Homo sapiens: one gene and its partners. The protein of the gene in region 4 purifies or fractionates together with the protein of the main gene of each other region. This does not show direct contact. Each region holds a gene or a part of one and is shown on either strand. Other genes may lie near its edges.

The links. Proteins that work in one complex are often made in the same cells at the same time.
Region 1: the proteins of ADCY9 (region 4) and CYP51A1 purify together in Homo sapiens (affinity purification with mass spectrometry; one large-scale study listed by BioGRID and IntAct). This does not show direct contact.
Region 2: the proteins of ADCY9 (region 4) and FNDC3A purify together in Homo sapiens (co-immunoprecipitation; 2 studies listed by BioGRID and IntAct, with this or other methods). This does not show direct contact.
Region 3: the proteins of ADCY9 (region 4) and OMA1 purify together in Homo sapiens (affinity purification with mass spectrometry; one large-scale study listed by BioGRID and IntAct). This does not show direct contact.

What each region holds. Positions count from the first base shown.
Region 1 is NC_000007.14:92,117,363-92,121,033, forward strand, and holds part of CYP51A1 (lanosterol 14-alpha demethylase), read right to left. Parts: intron 1,254-3,671; coding exon 1,158-1,253; intron 1-1,157. UniProt on the Homo sapiens protein: Sterol 14alpha-demethylase that plays a critical role in the cholesterol biosynthesis pathway, being cholesterol the major sterol component in mammalian membranes as well as a precursor for bile acid and steroid hormone synthesis.
Region 2 is NC_000013.11:49,195,856-49,199,526, reverse strand, and holds part of FNDC3A (fibronectin type-III domain-containing protein 3A), read right to left. Parts: intron 2,651-3,671; coding exon 2,537-2,650; intron 1,803-2,536; coding exon 1,653-1,802; intron 1,546-1,652; coding exon 1,262-1,545; intron 1,166-1,261; coding exon 953-1,165; intron 1-952. UniProt on the Homo sapiens protein: Mediates spermatid-Sertoli adhesion during spermatogenesis.
Region 3 is NC_000001.11:58,505,112-58,508,782, forward strand, and holds part of OMA1 (metalloendopeptidase OMA1, mitochondrial precursor), read right to left. Parts: intron 1,099-3,671; coding exon 949-1,098; intron 1-948. UniProt on the Homo sapiens protein: Metalloprotease that is part of the quality control system in the inner membrane of mitochondria. Activated in response to various mitochondrial stress, leading to the proteolytic cleavage of target proteins, such as OPA1, UQCC3 and DELE1.
Region 4 is NC_000016.10:4,106,305-4,109,975, forward strand, and holds part of ADCY9 (adenylate cyclase type 9), read right to left. Parts: intron 1-3,671. UniProt on the Homo sapiens protein: Adenylyl cyclase that catalyzes the formation of the signaling molecule cAMP in response to activation of G protein-coupled receptors.

The DNA of each region.
Region 1 (3,671 bases), on a different chromosome or scaffold from region 4:
GTCAAAAAATTATAAGTTGAATCACATAAATCAAGAACCATCTGTACATATATTTAAAAACTGGCTAGATAATAGGCAAACTAAAAATTATTTTAACTCAAGATGATTTCCAGTGAGCCAGCGTTGGGTTGGAAGTACACAGTACACAAATCAAACCCATAATGCCTTGGAGGTAGGGTTGGAATTTCAGAGAGGCTTTCACTATCAATTTGTACACTTCATATTAACAATTTTTTACAACAAAATGTTATTTTTAAAACCAAGAAAAATATGTACTTTGATTTTTAAAACCCCAATTGTTAAAGAAAAATGCAGAACATGATTAGCATTAAAGATTAGCATGTAGGCCGGGCGCGGGATTACACCTGTAATCCCAGCACTTTGGGAGGCCAAGGCGGGTGGATCACCTGAGGTCGGGAGTTCGAGATCAGCCTGACCAACATGGATAAACCCCATCTCTACTAAAATACAAAAAATTAGCCAGGCATGGTGGCATGCCCCTGTAATCCCAGCTACTTGGGAGGCTGAGGCAGAAGAATTGCTTGAACCCGGGAGGCGGAGGTTGCAGTGAGCTGAGATCGCACCACTGCACTCCAGCCTGGGCAACAAGAGTGAAATGCCGTCTCAAAAAAAAAAAAAACAGATTAGCACGTATACTATCTACAATTAGGTAAAAATATGTTTTTAGAGTATATAAAACTGAAGATTAGGTAGAAGTGATTATTCTACTTTTTTAATTTAAAAAAATCTCTTTTATGCTACTCTACTTCCTCTTTTCTTTTTCTTTCTTTTTTATTTTTATTTTTTTTGAGACAGGGTCTTGCTCTGTTGCCCAGGCAGCAATGCAGTGGCGTGATCATGGATTACTGCAGTTTCAACCTCCCAGGCTCAAGCAATCTACCCACATCAGCCTCCCAAGCAGCTGGGACCACAGGCATGTGCCATTATGGCCAGCTAATTTTTAGAAAAAATTTTGTAGAGATGAGGTCAGTCTCACTATGTTGCCCAGGCTGGTCTCAAATTCTGGCCTCAAGTGATCCTCCCACCTCAGCCTCCCAAAGTGTTGAGATTACAGGTGTGAACCACCACACCCACCTATTTCTTCTTTTTGATAAAAACTGGGGGTATAGAGGGGAAGATGTAGCCAAGATACTCACCTGAGGAGTTCTGGCCATTCTCATCATGATCATTATAGGAGGTCTAAGTCTTAATGTTTCTTTTATACAGCGATCAAGTAAATTTAGATCCTTGAGCTAAAATGAGAAAGCATTTCCTGATTGTTATAAATAACATACTTCAACAGTACAAAAAATTAGTTTAACTTCTTAGTTAGTACAAGACAGCTTGCATTCCAGCTAAAAGTACAGAGGTAACTGGTTCAGGGTGGCTGGGGTTATCATGCTCTACCACTGTCCATGGTGAAAAAGGAGGGCAAGGTAACAGAAGCGATTGCCCTGAAGAATGAAGTAAGAACCTACAAAAATTCACTCCTCCAAAAAATGAAAACAGTAGCAACAATCTTAATGTCAACTTTTTCAAAATTCTGGAAGATTAACCAAAGGCTTGCAACAATCTAAGGAGAGTTAATTCAAGAAAAAGAAATCTGAATCTTGGTAAGAAGAGTAAGCTTTGTGGTAGTGTAAGTTGTATTTCTTTCATCCTCCTCTCCCCAAATCCATGGTAGCCCCGGAAACCAACAGCATGACAACTATAGCAGCTGTGAAAGCCAGAAGCCTAACAACTATTAGAGGAGCCAGAGCAAATTTTCCAAAAATATTTAGCAAAAATTGTTTAACACTGAAGGCGCCTGAGATGGTGATATCAGTTGGTGCTAAGAGACAGAACAAGAAGTTTAAAAGGGAAAACTGGGGAGTAAGATGTCCACAGGAGACTTTGAAAAGTTCCAACATAAGAGAATCTTGAAGGCCACACATATGTATAAGACCATGCATATGCCCAGGTAAGATCTAAGAGGCTGTAATCTTTTACCTCTGGCTGACCTGTACACACAGGTAGTGAAGGCAGACTTGTAACTGCCTGTTGGAGTGTTAATAACATCCCCTAACACACACATACAGAGCCTTTCAGCAAAAGCTAGGAGACTGGCTGTTCAAAGCACTTCAGTAAATCTCTGTCCAAATATTAGATGCCCACTAAAGTAAGCAAGCAGAGATTTCAGTGACCTCACTGAACAAGGAATGACATAATTAATCCAGGAAACGCAGTAAACAAACAGCAGCAGCAACAACAACAACAACAAAGAGCCAGCAACAATAAACCCAGGGAGGAGGGCATCTGATTTCCACAGTTGCCACATTATTTTAAATGTACAGTTTTCAACAAAAAAATTACAAAAAACACACCAAAACAGGAAAGTATGGCCAGTACATAGAAAAAGCAAGCAGTTTAATAGAAACTATCCATGAAGAAGCCCAGACATTGGACTTACTAGATAATGAATTTAAATCAGCTATTATAAACAGGTTCAAAGAACTATAGCAAAATATGCCTAGATATCTCTAGTAAAATGGAGAATATCAATATATTATTTTTTTAGAGAACCAAATAGAAATTCAAGAACTGAGAAGTATGAGAACTGAAATGAAAAATTCACCCGAGGGGATCAACAGCAGATTTGGACTGGCAGAAGAAAGAATAACATCAAAAAAATAACAATAATAAAATACTTAAGAATACATTTAACAAGAGAAGTTTAAACATTGTGCACCAAAAACTATAAAACATTGTTGAAAGAAATTAAAGAACTAAAATAAGAGAAAGACATCTCATGTTCACAGATTTAAAGACTAAAATTGTGCTCCCAAATTAATATGGCGATACAATGCAATCATTGTCAAAAATCTCAGCTAGCTTCTTTGCAGAAACTGACACACTGACCCCAAAATTCATATGGAAACTAAAGGGACTAGGAGTAGATAAACAGCCTTGAAAAGGACAAAGTCAGAGGACTCACACTCCCGAATTCAAAACTTATTACAAAACTACGTAATGGCATCAGACTAAACATATCAATGGAATAGAACTGAGTCCAGAAATAAAGCCTTAAATTTATGGTCAAGAGGCTTTTTAAAATGTATTTATTTTTTCAGAGACAGGGTTTCGCTATGTTGCCCAGGCTGGACCCCAAGTCCTGAGCTCAAGCGACCTTCCCATCTCAGCTTCTCAGTAGCTGAGAATACAGGCACGTGCCACTGCGCCTGGCTATAATAGATTTTTTTACAAAGACAATTCAACGTGGAAAAAATAGTCTTTTCAACAAACAGTGTGGGACAACTGGATAAACACATGCAAAAGAATGATGACCTCACATCATATACATAAATTAATTCATAATGGATCAAAGACCTAAATGTAAGATATGAAACTACAAAACACTAAGAAGAATACACAGAAATAAATCTTCATACACTTTGATTAGGCATTAGTTTCTCTGACACCAAAAGCACATTAAAAAAAAATAGATGAACTCTTACAACTCAATAATAAAAAGACAACTCATTTTAAATATGGGAACAGGATGTGAGCAGACATTTCTCCAAAGAAGTATACCAAAGCCAAAGAACACATCATAAGACACTCAACATCACTAGTCACCAGGGAAATGCAAAATCAAAACAAAATACCAACTGGGCATGGTGGCTCACACCTGT
Region 2 (3,671 bases), on a different chromosome or scaffold from region 4:
GTGAAACTCCGCCTCTACTAAAATACAAAAAATTAGCCGGGCGTGGTGGTGCGCACCTGTAGTCCCAGCTACTTGGGAGGCTGAGGCAGGGGAATTGTTTGAACCTGAGAGGCGGAGATTGCAGTGAGCCGAGATCGCGTCACTGCACTCCAGCCTGGTGAGAGTGAGACTCCGTCTCAAAAAAAAAAAAAAAAAAAATTGTTTCGGTCAGGCACAGTGGCTCATGAGTTGTAATCTCAGCACTCAGTGAGGCTGAGCGGGGAGGACCACTTGAGCCCAGGAGTTCGAGACCAGTGTGAGCGACATGGTGAAACCCCATCTCTACTAAAAATACAAAAATTAGCCAGGTGTAGTGGCCCACGCCTGTGGTCACAGATACTTGGGGAGCTGAGGTGGGAGGATGGCTCCAGCCCTGGAGGCAGAGGTTGCAATGAGCCAAGATAGTGCCACTGGAGGCCAGCCTGGGTGACAGAGCAAGACCTTGTCTTAAAAAAAAAAAATTGTGTCCTGCTAGAAATAAACACTGAAGAGTTTATTTTGTATCTAAGATTAGGTGTCTTTTACTATCATGAAAACAGTAAATGGATTACAGAAAACAACCAAACAGTAGCCCACTTATTTTTTTCTCTTGGTATTCCACTCACAAATTATAAACAGGAAATGTACATTGTGTTTTCTAACGTTTTAAAAACAGCACACTTTTGTATGACAATCTTGACTTCGTTTTTGAAAACTTACTTCATTAAAATAAATTTTTTTTAGAGACAAGGTCTCACTGTCTTGCCCAGGCTGGTCTTGCACTCCTGGGCTCAAGCAATTCGCCTGCCTCAGCCTCCCAAAGTGCTGAGATTACAGGTGTCAGCCACCACACCTGGCCTACTTCTAATAGTTACAGAAATGTATATACTTAAGACCTAAGAAACTATATAAAGAAGCAATTAAAAAAACCTACCGTCCATTCTTATCCTCCATCTGAAGGTGGTACTGAATAGAATCGGTTGACAATGTCTTTGGAGTTCCTTCTCCCCATTTCAGCTTAAGGTTCTGGTGGCTAAAGGCAACACATTCCAGACGAGGTGGATCAGGAGGGAGAGGCTTAGTTTTTAATTTTATCATATGGCTGAAAGGACCAGCTCCAAGGCTATTCAAGGCTTGAATTCGTATTCTAAGTGCCACATAAGAAAAAAAGTTTGGTTATGATTGTTTTATTTAAAGCGTCTCTCTGGTCTAGGCAAAAATCAACATAATTTTTAGAGTATACCTGTATGTTGTATCTGGTTGCAAATTGTTGATAATATAGCTTGTAACCTTTCCCACTGTTAGGGATTGTTTATCTCCAAAGTCTATGCTGTAGGCAAGGATTTCCGAACCATGATCACAAGGCTTTTCCCAGCTTATTGCAAGGCATGTAGAAGGTGAATAATGGGGATTTTCTATCTCATCATCGCTTATTTCTTGAAGACAGGTCACAATGCCAGGAACTGATGGTGGAGTCACACAGGCTACTACTTCACTGAAAGGGCCTGCACCCACAACACTCAGAGCCTACAAATTAACAGAGCCTCCGAGTTAACAAAGTCATGACCATGAAAATGCCAATGAAATATAAAACTCTGGATAGAGTTAAGTGACAAGGTACTGATCATCTTTACCTGGACCCTGCAATAATAGGTAGTTGCTGGTGAAAGTCCTTTTATTTCATAACTGAGACCAGGCCCACAGTAACATATCTGCATACTTCCTTCAACTCCTCCCCACTCCAGTCGATATTCAGTGACATCTGTTCCATTACTCAAAGGAACCTTTAAATTAAGAAAAGGATAAAGGTCTTAGTCTTGATGTTGATTAAATAGCTTTTGGCCAAAAATGCTCTTTACCTGAGCACATGTAAAACTAGATTGCTTTTGAGTTTCTTTAAAACTTTTAAGCACAATCAAAACTGTTCAATTTTACATTTTTTATTCATTAAGATTATCTGAATTTAAGATTGGTCAAATATATAACTGTTTTGAATTAGAAGTAGAAATATGACTAAGTCACTTTAGAAAGAGTGTTTTAAGGTAAATATGTTTCAAGATAATTCTATTAATATGAAATGTTAAAAGCATACACACATTTTGTTAAATTTCAAAGGGAACTGAAAATATAATAATTATCATCACTGATTATTACTATCCACAATAAGTACACTGGAGATGTGTACTGGATAAATATAAGAGAAATAGAATTTACTAATTCCTGTGTATGTCTATTCTGAACATTAAACTTACAGTGGCTGAAATATCTCAGTACTGAGACAAAGCCATTCATAAAAATACAAAGCACATAATGAACAGGAATCTAAATATTTGTAATGCAAATATACCTTACTCAAATTCTTCAAAGAGGAAAAAGAAGTCACTGTTTTTCATGTGAATTAAACTAGGGCTTACTCTGTATAATATAGGCGGTAAAAATGAACAGTATCTTTATTCTTTTATATAAACTATTCTATTCACTTAAGAAAGTAGATACAAGTCAATGGAAATTACAATACCTCCCAATTCACTTGTGCACAAGTTGCAGATCTACATGTCACTTGAGGGGGCTTGCACTGATCTGGTGGCCCAGGGGCTGTAGTAATATCACATTTTTCTGAAAATGGTCCAAACTAGAAAAACAAATGTAACTAGTGTTTTTATTTTTCACCCTTAAATGTCCACTGATTGCACAGAACTGCATATTTAAAGATTCATTAATAAAGTCTTTTCCCTGTGTTTCAAGATTAATTTGGTCATAATTCTATAAGTATTCACATTAACTAAAAAGACTTAAAAATCATGAAAGTAAAGGTGTGAGAAATTTTAAAGTTTCATTTACCTATACTTTCTTCTGCCCCTTATTTCTTCAGGAAATGGTTTTTGTAAGAAGGGCAGGACATTAGGGAATGAGGTCGGTGGAATAATTCAGGAGAAATATAAGGAGTGAAGAAATTGATACTAATTAAAGGTACGGGAGATGGTAGGTGTAAATTATTATTTTTAATTTTTTAATACTTCACGAATCTTTCTTAGGCATATTCCATATCAAATTTTACCAACATTCTGTTCTATAAATTTGTTTATTTTGTAACAGAATTTGATTTTTCTGTTCCATGCTAAAAAGCTCACTTTCTCATAATTACTTTTAACATACATTACCCGGAATATAAAAAATTTTATTCAGTATTGGCAAATTCCTTCCCCGACACATAGGAGAACAATTACAGAAATTTCTTGTCATCAATTTTTCAAAGCTCATTAGCAAAAGAAAAGCCCCAATACACTGGTATTTTCACTTAACAGTGGCGCATCATTATAATGGTCAGAAGTAAACCTACTTGTTACTGCACTGTATCAGGCAGTTTTGCCAAATGCCCATCTTTAAGAGCTAGCTCAACTTCTTTTTTTTTTTTTTTTTTTTTTTTTGAGACAAGGTCTGGCTGGCTCCATCACCTAGACTGCAGGAGTGCAGTGGTGCAAACATGGCTCACTGCACCCTCGACTTCCTGGGCTCAAGCCATCCTCCCACCTCAGCCTCCTGAGTAGCTGGGACTACGGGTGTGCACTACCATGCTGGGCTAATTTTTCTACTTTTTACAGAGACAGGGTTTCACCATGTTGCCCAGGCTGGTCTCAGACTCCTGGGCACAA
Region 3 (3,671 bases), on a different chromosome or scaffold from region 4:
CCGCCTAATTTTGTATTTTCAGTAGAGACAGGGTTTCACCCCGTTGGCCAGGCTGGTCTCGAACTCCTGACCTCAGGTGATCCACCCACCTCAGCCTCCCAAAATGCTGGGATAACAGGCATGAGAAAGATACTTCTATAATACACCTGGATCTGTTGTGCTATGCCTTAGCACATGGCCCAGTACCAATTCTTAAATTGCTAAAAAATGTTCCGCTTTCATAACAAGCCACCAAATTTAATACAAGTGAGATAGAAGAGAGCGTGTAACGTGGCTCAGAGATGCCTAACATCCATTTTGTCCTGATATGGAAACCATAAAAACATTCTGAATGATGTCAACAAATCAAAAGATTTTCAGAGGATACTGAAAACTACTTGGCAGAAAGCCGCCTCAGCTTGACCCACTTATGAATTCTACAGAAAGAAAAGCCAGAGAGCAAATGCTTCACTCTTATCTTCATAAAGAAATAAATAACCAGAAACAAACATGAAGATTTTTTTTCCTAAAAAAACAAATTCCAGTACCACTACTACAATTAATATCCACTTGACCCAAAACTTCTGTACAACTCATTAACTGGTATTTTTAACAAAAAGCTTAAATCACCAAGGAAAGATTAAATTATCATCAACATGTTTAAAAAACTTAATATGCCTTGAGTTTTAAACTTTCATCAAGTCAGTTAAAATTAAAGTCTCATACTAAAGGAGTTAAACCTTCACTATTAAGAAAAGTCAACTGTACATAGTAATTTATTCTCCAAGACTTGTGGACAAGCAGAATTTTGCTTTTCAGTCAAATTCTGTGACAACTGATAATCCATAATTATAGTAATCAAAATAGTTAATAGGCTAGAACTCTCTTTTACTAAGCAAAAGAAGTGACAGCATTAAAAATAAATGATACAGTAAAAATAATGTCCCGCCTTCTACGGTGTCAGCTCACCTGAGGTATAAGTCTATCCAAGTACTCAACTCGATTGCCATGAGAAGGGTGTGTAGATAACCATTCTGGCATCTTGGGTTGGCCATGCAGGCTATCAACGAACTCCATTTGCTGCCAAAACACTGAACTGGCTCTTATGTCTGCACAAGCCTAAAACCAAAATTAGTAAAACCACACAATGAGCTCAGTTTTGAGGATTTTTTAAAAACTACTACTTTATTTTTTTTTAATTCTATTATAATTATACTTTAAGTTTTAGGGTACATGTGCACAACGTGCAGGTTTGTTACATACGTATACATGTGCCATGTTGGTGTGCTGTACCCATTAACTCGTCATTTAGCATTAGTTATATCTCCTAACAACTTTATGTCACTACATGCTTTAAAGTCATTTTCTATCATCACTTTAATAAAAGTAGAACATGCCCATTGCTTAGAAAAAGACCCACCTCAAACAACATGGTATCACAGTACTGAAATAACAGAATGCCTGCCCTTCCCATATACAACATTCACAATAACCCTGCTAACCAAAGATAGCCCACTATTTTCAGTATGATGGATATTAAGAACATGTATTAAGGGTAAAATCTTTTACACAAATTAAAAATTCTGTTTTCATAAAGTTTTAAAATATAATGTTATTAAACTGTATTAAAGAAACTTTACTTCTATGCCACTAGAACAATCAGAAAAAAACTTCAAATAAACATAAAGAGATGACATGTTTATTATGCACATCAATTTACCCAATTTTCTCAATGTATATGGACAATATATTTAATTCATATACCTTATAAAACACAATACCTTATAAAAGTACAATATAAAAGTACATTAGTACTTTTTAAAAGAATATATGTAGATCTTGTGTATGTACAATTCCATCATACACTCATATACATACTCATACGTATATACTTGTATATGCACAGAACATATCTGAGAAGCTATTTAAGAAGCTGTTAACTACCCTAAGAATGTACCTGAGGTATCTGATAGTGGAGAGGGAGCAACACTTTTATTTCTGAACTATATTAAAATACATTATTTTATAATTAAAATTATTTTTAAATCCTCCATAAGGTGGATTATTAACAAATATTTTATTAATTTGTTCAATTTATTCACATTTCTTAACTTATTCTTTCTATAATAAGTAACTGGAAAACAAGTGGTTATATTTCCCAATGATTTTATTTTTGATTAAAACTAAGAAAAAATATATATACTATACTGACTAAAATGTACTCTCAAAAAGATTTATAATAGTGTAATTGTGAAACCCCAAAAGGCAAATATATTAATAGAACACTGCATGCTAGTCAACAACCATGCTACATCATTTCTTAACAAATACCATTAAAGCATTTCCAAATGTTAGCAAAATAAAAAATTTTAAATTCAAGTAAATCTTATTCAATATTTAAAGAAATATAATTCCTTAAGACCTCTGAGTATTCTAAGTTGAAAAGAATTCAAGGTACTTTATACACTACTGCACAGATATGGATATACATGTTTATATGTATATAAACAGGAATATACAAGATAAATGTATATAACAAACATAAATATTATTCATGTTTATACACATATAAATACATATCTATATATGCAAGATGTGTGTGTGCTTATGTGTAAAATATGTATGTAACATATGTATCTATAAAGAAATAATTATTTGATGCTGAATTAGAAACACCCAGAGGACTATGCCCCTCAATAATAGGTAATCACATTCACAATAAAAATACAGGCTGAGATTAACAAGTATTCTTCTCAAATAATTCATAAAAATATAAAATGACTTGAAAGAATTCTAACACAAACAAAAAACCCCTCTGAAAACTGGAAGATAAACATTTGAATGGACTACAAATTCACGAATTATCTAACATGAAGTTTGTCTGCTACACAAACCAAAGGCATACTTATCTAATTTTTTTAGCCTAAAACTGTTAATCAAAAGACAAAATATTTCCCTATTCAATCTCTAAGTAACACAGCTGAAGGGAATCTTTAAAGCAATATTTGATATGCAGAAATAGAAAAAGAAATTAATTATCCCTACAGACTAGAAAGTATTCCAAGCTAAAAGTATTAAAAGGGGACTTGAGATATCTACTTTAATGTTAAGATAAGAGTGTTGAGTTTGTCTGTACTTCTCAAACCCAGTTCAAAGAGCCACTAAAGTCAGATAATTTTGTTTCCAAAATGAGTATTTTATTTACATTTTTCCAATTTAGGAAAAATAAGTAACAGGTTGACATCAGCAAGATGGAAGAATAGGACGCCCTAAACCCTCCTTCCCCACATGAACACACTGATTCAACGATAATATACGAATTCCCTTTGTGAGAAATCCTGAAACTAGGTGCAATGCTTCTGCACCTGCACAAGTACGAAATGAACAACATCAAACCTGGTAGAAGACTGGAGACACCCTCTTGCCATAATCTGCGAGAGCAATTATGTACCCCCAATACAGCACCATATGATCATAAGAACACCTGCAGCTCCCCACCACTCCTTGGGGAAGGAAAAACTTGGCTTGTGTATCTAACATTCCAACTTTTCTAAGAGCTGCCCTAGGAACTGGCTTCTGTCTTGCCAGCCTTGTAGCACTGATGGAATCTAAAACGCCCTAGATATCTAGGGGCCAGTGATAATGTGACAGAAGTTTGAACAAGCACACAAGCAGTTGCCATGACCACTCCC
Region 4 (3,671 bases):
CAGTCTTCCCAGGGGAGGACCACCCTACCCTTGGCCCACACCACGGATGGCGGCCCCACATCCACCCTCTGATGCAGCCCAGTCCCTTCCCTTCTGTTCCGCGGCAGCACCGGTGCCTGGCCACTTCCCTTGCCAGTTCCCTTCCTGTTTCAAAAACTCTCATCTCTTCACAAAATTCCCTCCAGGGATGCTAGTTCCTGTTGGAAAAGGTCTTGAGGTGTGTCACAGGCAAAGTACAAATGATATGCCCAGGGCCAGATGGATGACAGGCCCCTAAGCTCAGCTAGTCCAGAGTCAGGAGGGGACCTGCAGAATTCTAATGGTGAATGATTACACTCTTACAGTTTTGGAATTCCAGCAAAAACACCAATACTAAAATCACCAACCAAGACAAAGACGAGACTTACGGCCCACGCAGGCTTCTGCACACTCTGTGCCCAGACATGGACAGATTAATGTGGGTTGGTTGGTTGGTTTTTTTCCAAGATTACTATTCCACAGCAAAGTACATAGGCAACGCTGACCAATATGCAGAAACATAATTACTATCTCACCAAGCTGGCCAGAAGACAAAAATCTTGAAACTTCTTGACTTGCTCTAATTGTTCCTTCTCCATGTTTCCCTTCCTTAGGCATTCTACCTGAAAAGACAGCCCTCCCTTCCTTCTTCATCCCATTGGCAATTCAGCAAACCTTAACCTTCTCTTGCTTTACCAGAGGTTACTTCTACTCGAAAGCTTGTCTTCAGAATTAACAGCTGTGTCCTTGTCACTGTAAGCCAGGTCTCAAAGAGCCTGAACAAATGGTCACTGGGGGCAGCTTGAGTGTCGACTCTACTGCTGTTTTCTGTCTCCCACCCCAGCTGTGGAGGGGAACTGTGTGCCTCATCTCATCTCTGCCATTTGCTATCTGAGAGGCTGTATTTCCACGTGCATAACAGATCCTGCTCAAGAATGCAGGTCAAGGCTGGGCGTGGTGGCTCACGCCTGTAATCCCAGCCCTTTGGGAGGCTGAGGCTGGTGGATCACCTGAGGTCAGGAGTTCAAGACCGGCCTGGCCTACATGGTGAAACCCCATCTCTACTAAAAATACAAAAATTAGCCGGGCGTGGTGGCGCACACCTGTAATCCCAGCTATTTGGGAGGCTGAGGCAGGAGAACCGCTTGAACCTGGGAGGCAGAGGTTGCAGTAAGCTGAGATCACGCCATGGCATTCCAGCCTGGGTGACACAGCCAGACTCTGTCTCAAAAAAAAAAAAAAAAAAAAAAAAAAAAGAATGCAGTGCAGGTCAACACAGAATTTCCAAGCAAGGAGACTGAGCTCTGCTAACGGGTTAGCATCCCAGTGGCAAGGGTTGCAGGCTTAGGTGGGGACAAGCTAACGGGGGAAGGAAGGGGAACACCTGAGCATGCAACTGAACCCCAAACCAACACCTGGCTAGGGTTCTGTCAGCTGGCAGGCCCGTGCTCAGGGTTAATGGGGCGCCCAGATTTCCGGCATGAGACAGGTGTTTGTTTGCAGAGGCTAACGCATACAGAATGCCTCCGTCCACTGTCGGTCTGTCGGCCCACCAGACAGGGTCTACATAGGAACTCCTCTAAGGCAAAGGTCTCGATCACAGAGGTGGCCAACAGGTGACAATCTGCCCAAATGCATACCAGCGGGTCTCCTCCCCAAGTTGCTCCACAAGCATAAAGTTTGGCTGGGGAAAAAAGCTTTTTTAATTTCTGCATCTGACAATGTGATCACTCCCTGGTATTCCCCTCTTCAGAGATATGACCATGGGTGTGGATGAGAGCGGAGGAGCATCTTCATTCTGTCTTCCTAATATTTACACGGGAAAAGAAGATGCCTGTAGATATTTTCTAACAGTTTCATTTTCTGTCTTTGTGACCCTGTATCTATGACAGGAAAAGCCAACAGCTCGAGATAACACGTCTCACCATTTTTTGCTTGTGGCCCAAGGCAGAATACAACAGCCACGGTTCCCTCAGGCCTAGCGGTTTCATCCCAAATGCTGTGGAAGGTCCCTCACCTTAATCAGACCGTTTCTTCATTTTTTTTTTTTTTTTTTTTTTTTTTTTTTGGCGACAAAGTCTCGCCCTATCGCCCAGGCTGGAGTGCAATGGCACGATCTCGGCTCACTGCAAACTCCACCTCCTGGGTTCGAACGATTCTCCTGCCTCAGCTTCCCAAGTGGCTGGGACTAAAGGCGCCTGCGACCACACCCAGCCAATTTTTGCATTTTCAGTAGAGACAGGGTTTCACCATGTTGGTCAGGCTGGTCTCAAACTCCTGACCTCCTGATCTGCCCACCTCGGTCTCCCAAAGTGCTGGGATTACAGGCATGAGCCACCACGCCCGGCCCATTTCTCCATATCTTTAATAACTGTCCCTCACACTTTTTTTTTTTTTTTTGAGACAGGGTCTCATTCTTGTCGCCCAGGCTGGAGTGCAATGGTGCAATCTTGGCTCACTGCAACCTCCGTCTCCCAGGTTCAAGCAATTCTCCTGCCTCAGCATCCCGAGTAGCTGGGATTACAGGTACCTGCCACCACACCTGGTTAATTTTTGTATTTTTAGTAAATATGGGGTTTCACCACGTTGGCCAGGCTGGTCTCAAACTCCTGACCTCAGGTGATCCGCCTACCTCGGCCTCCCAAAGTGTTGAGATTACAGGCATGAGCCACCATGCCTGGCCCCTCACTTTTTAGATTATTTCCAAAATCCTAGCAGTATGCTAAAAATTCCTGCAACCTTCTCCCAGTGACTGGCCACCCTAGATAAGATTTCTCACACTCGTACACCCCATCTGCTGTATCCCCTTCCTGCTTTATGTTTGTTCACAAAACACTTTTTCTATTTTACTTATTTATGGTTTGACTCCCCTGTTGTCCCCTCTATTAGATCTCCCCTATTTGAAGGCCTGGTTTTTGTTTCTTAGAGACAGGGTCTCACTCTGTCGCCCAGGCTGGAATGCAGTGGTGCAATCACGGCTCTCTGCAACCTCGACCTCGTGGGCTCCAGCGATCCTCCTATATTATTGACTTAAAAATTCTTGTCCCCTATTACAAGAGCAGGAATTGTTGTCTGTTTTGTTTACGGCTGTATTGCCAGAACCCAGAACCGTGCCTGGCACGGAGTAAATGATTTGCTGAATGAGTAAGCAAGCCAGGGGTTCCGGGCCTCTGTACTCTGCAAGTCCATCCTGCATTCTCCATTCATACCATAGCAACTTCAAAGGCCCCTCACCCATTCCTGACTCCACATTGTCGCCAAGTCACTTCCAGAAACTTAAAATGCCATTTCCCATTCACATGGTCAAGCCCTTCCCCTCCTGCCAGTCGTTTGTTTAAATCTGGCTTGCAGTCCCATCAAGCTGCTCTTCCTAATGCCACTCAGATCCCATCACCTCCATCACTGCTACTGTAACTTTGGATTGGGCCACCATCACCCCTACCTGGGATTTACTCGACACCTCATTAATCTCTTTCCAACCCACACTCACTAGCTCTGAAAGAGTGAACTTTCTAAAACTGCAAGTCAGATCACCTAAGCCCCCTGTTGAGTGGTTCCCTGACACCTATGGGGTCAAATGCAAACTCCTTCCCACGCTACCCATGGCCTTCCTTGTCCTGATGAACAACTAACAATCGTCCGCCCCCACAGAG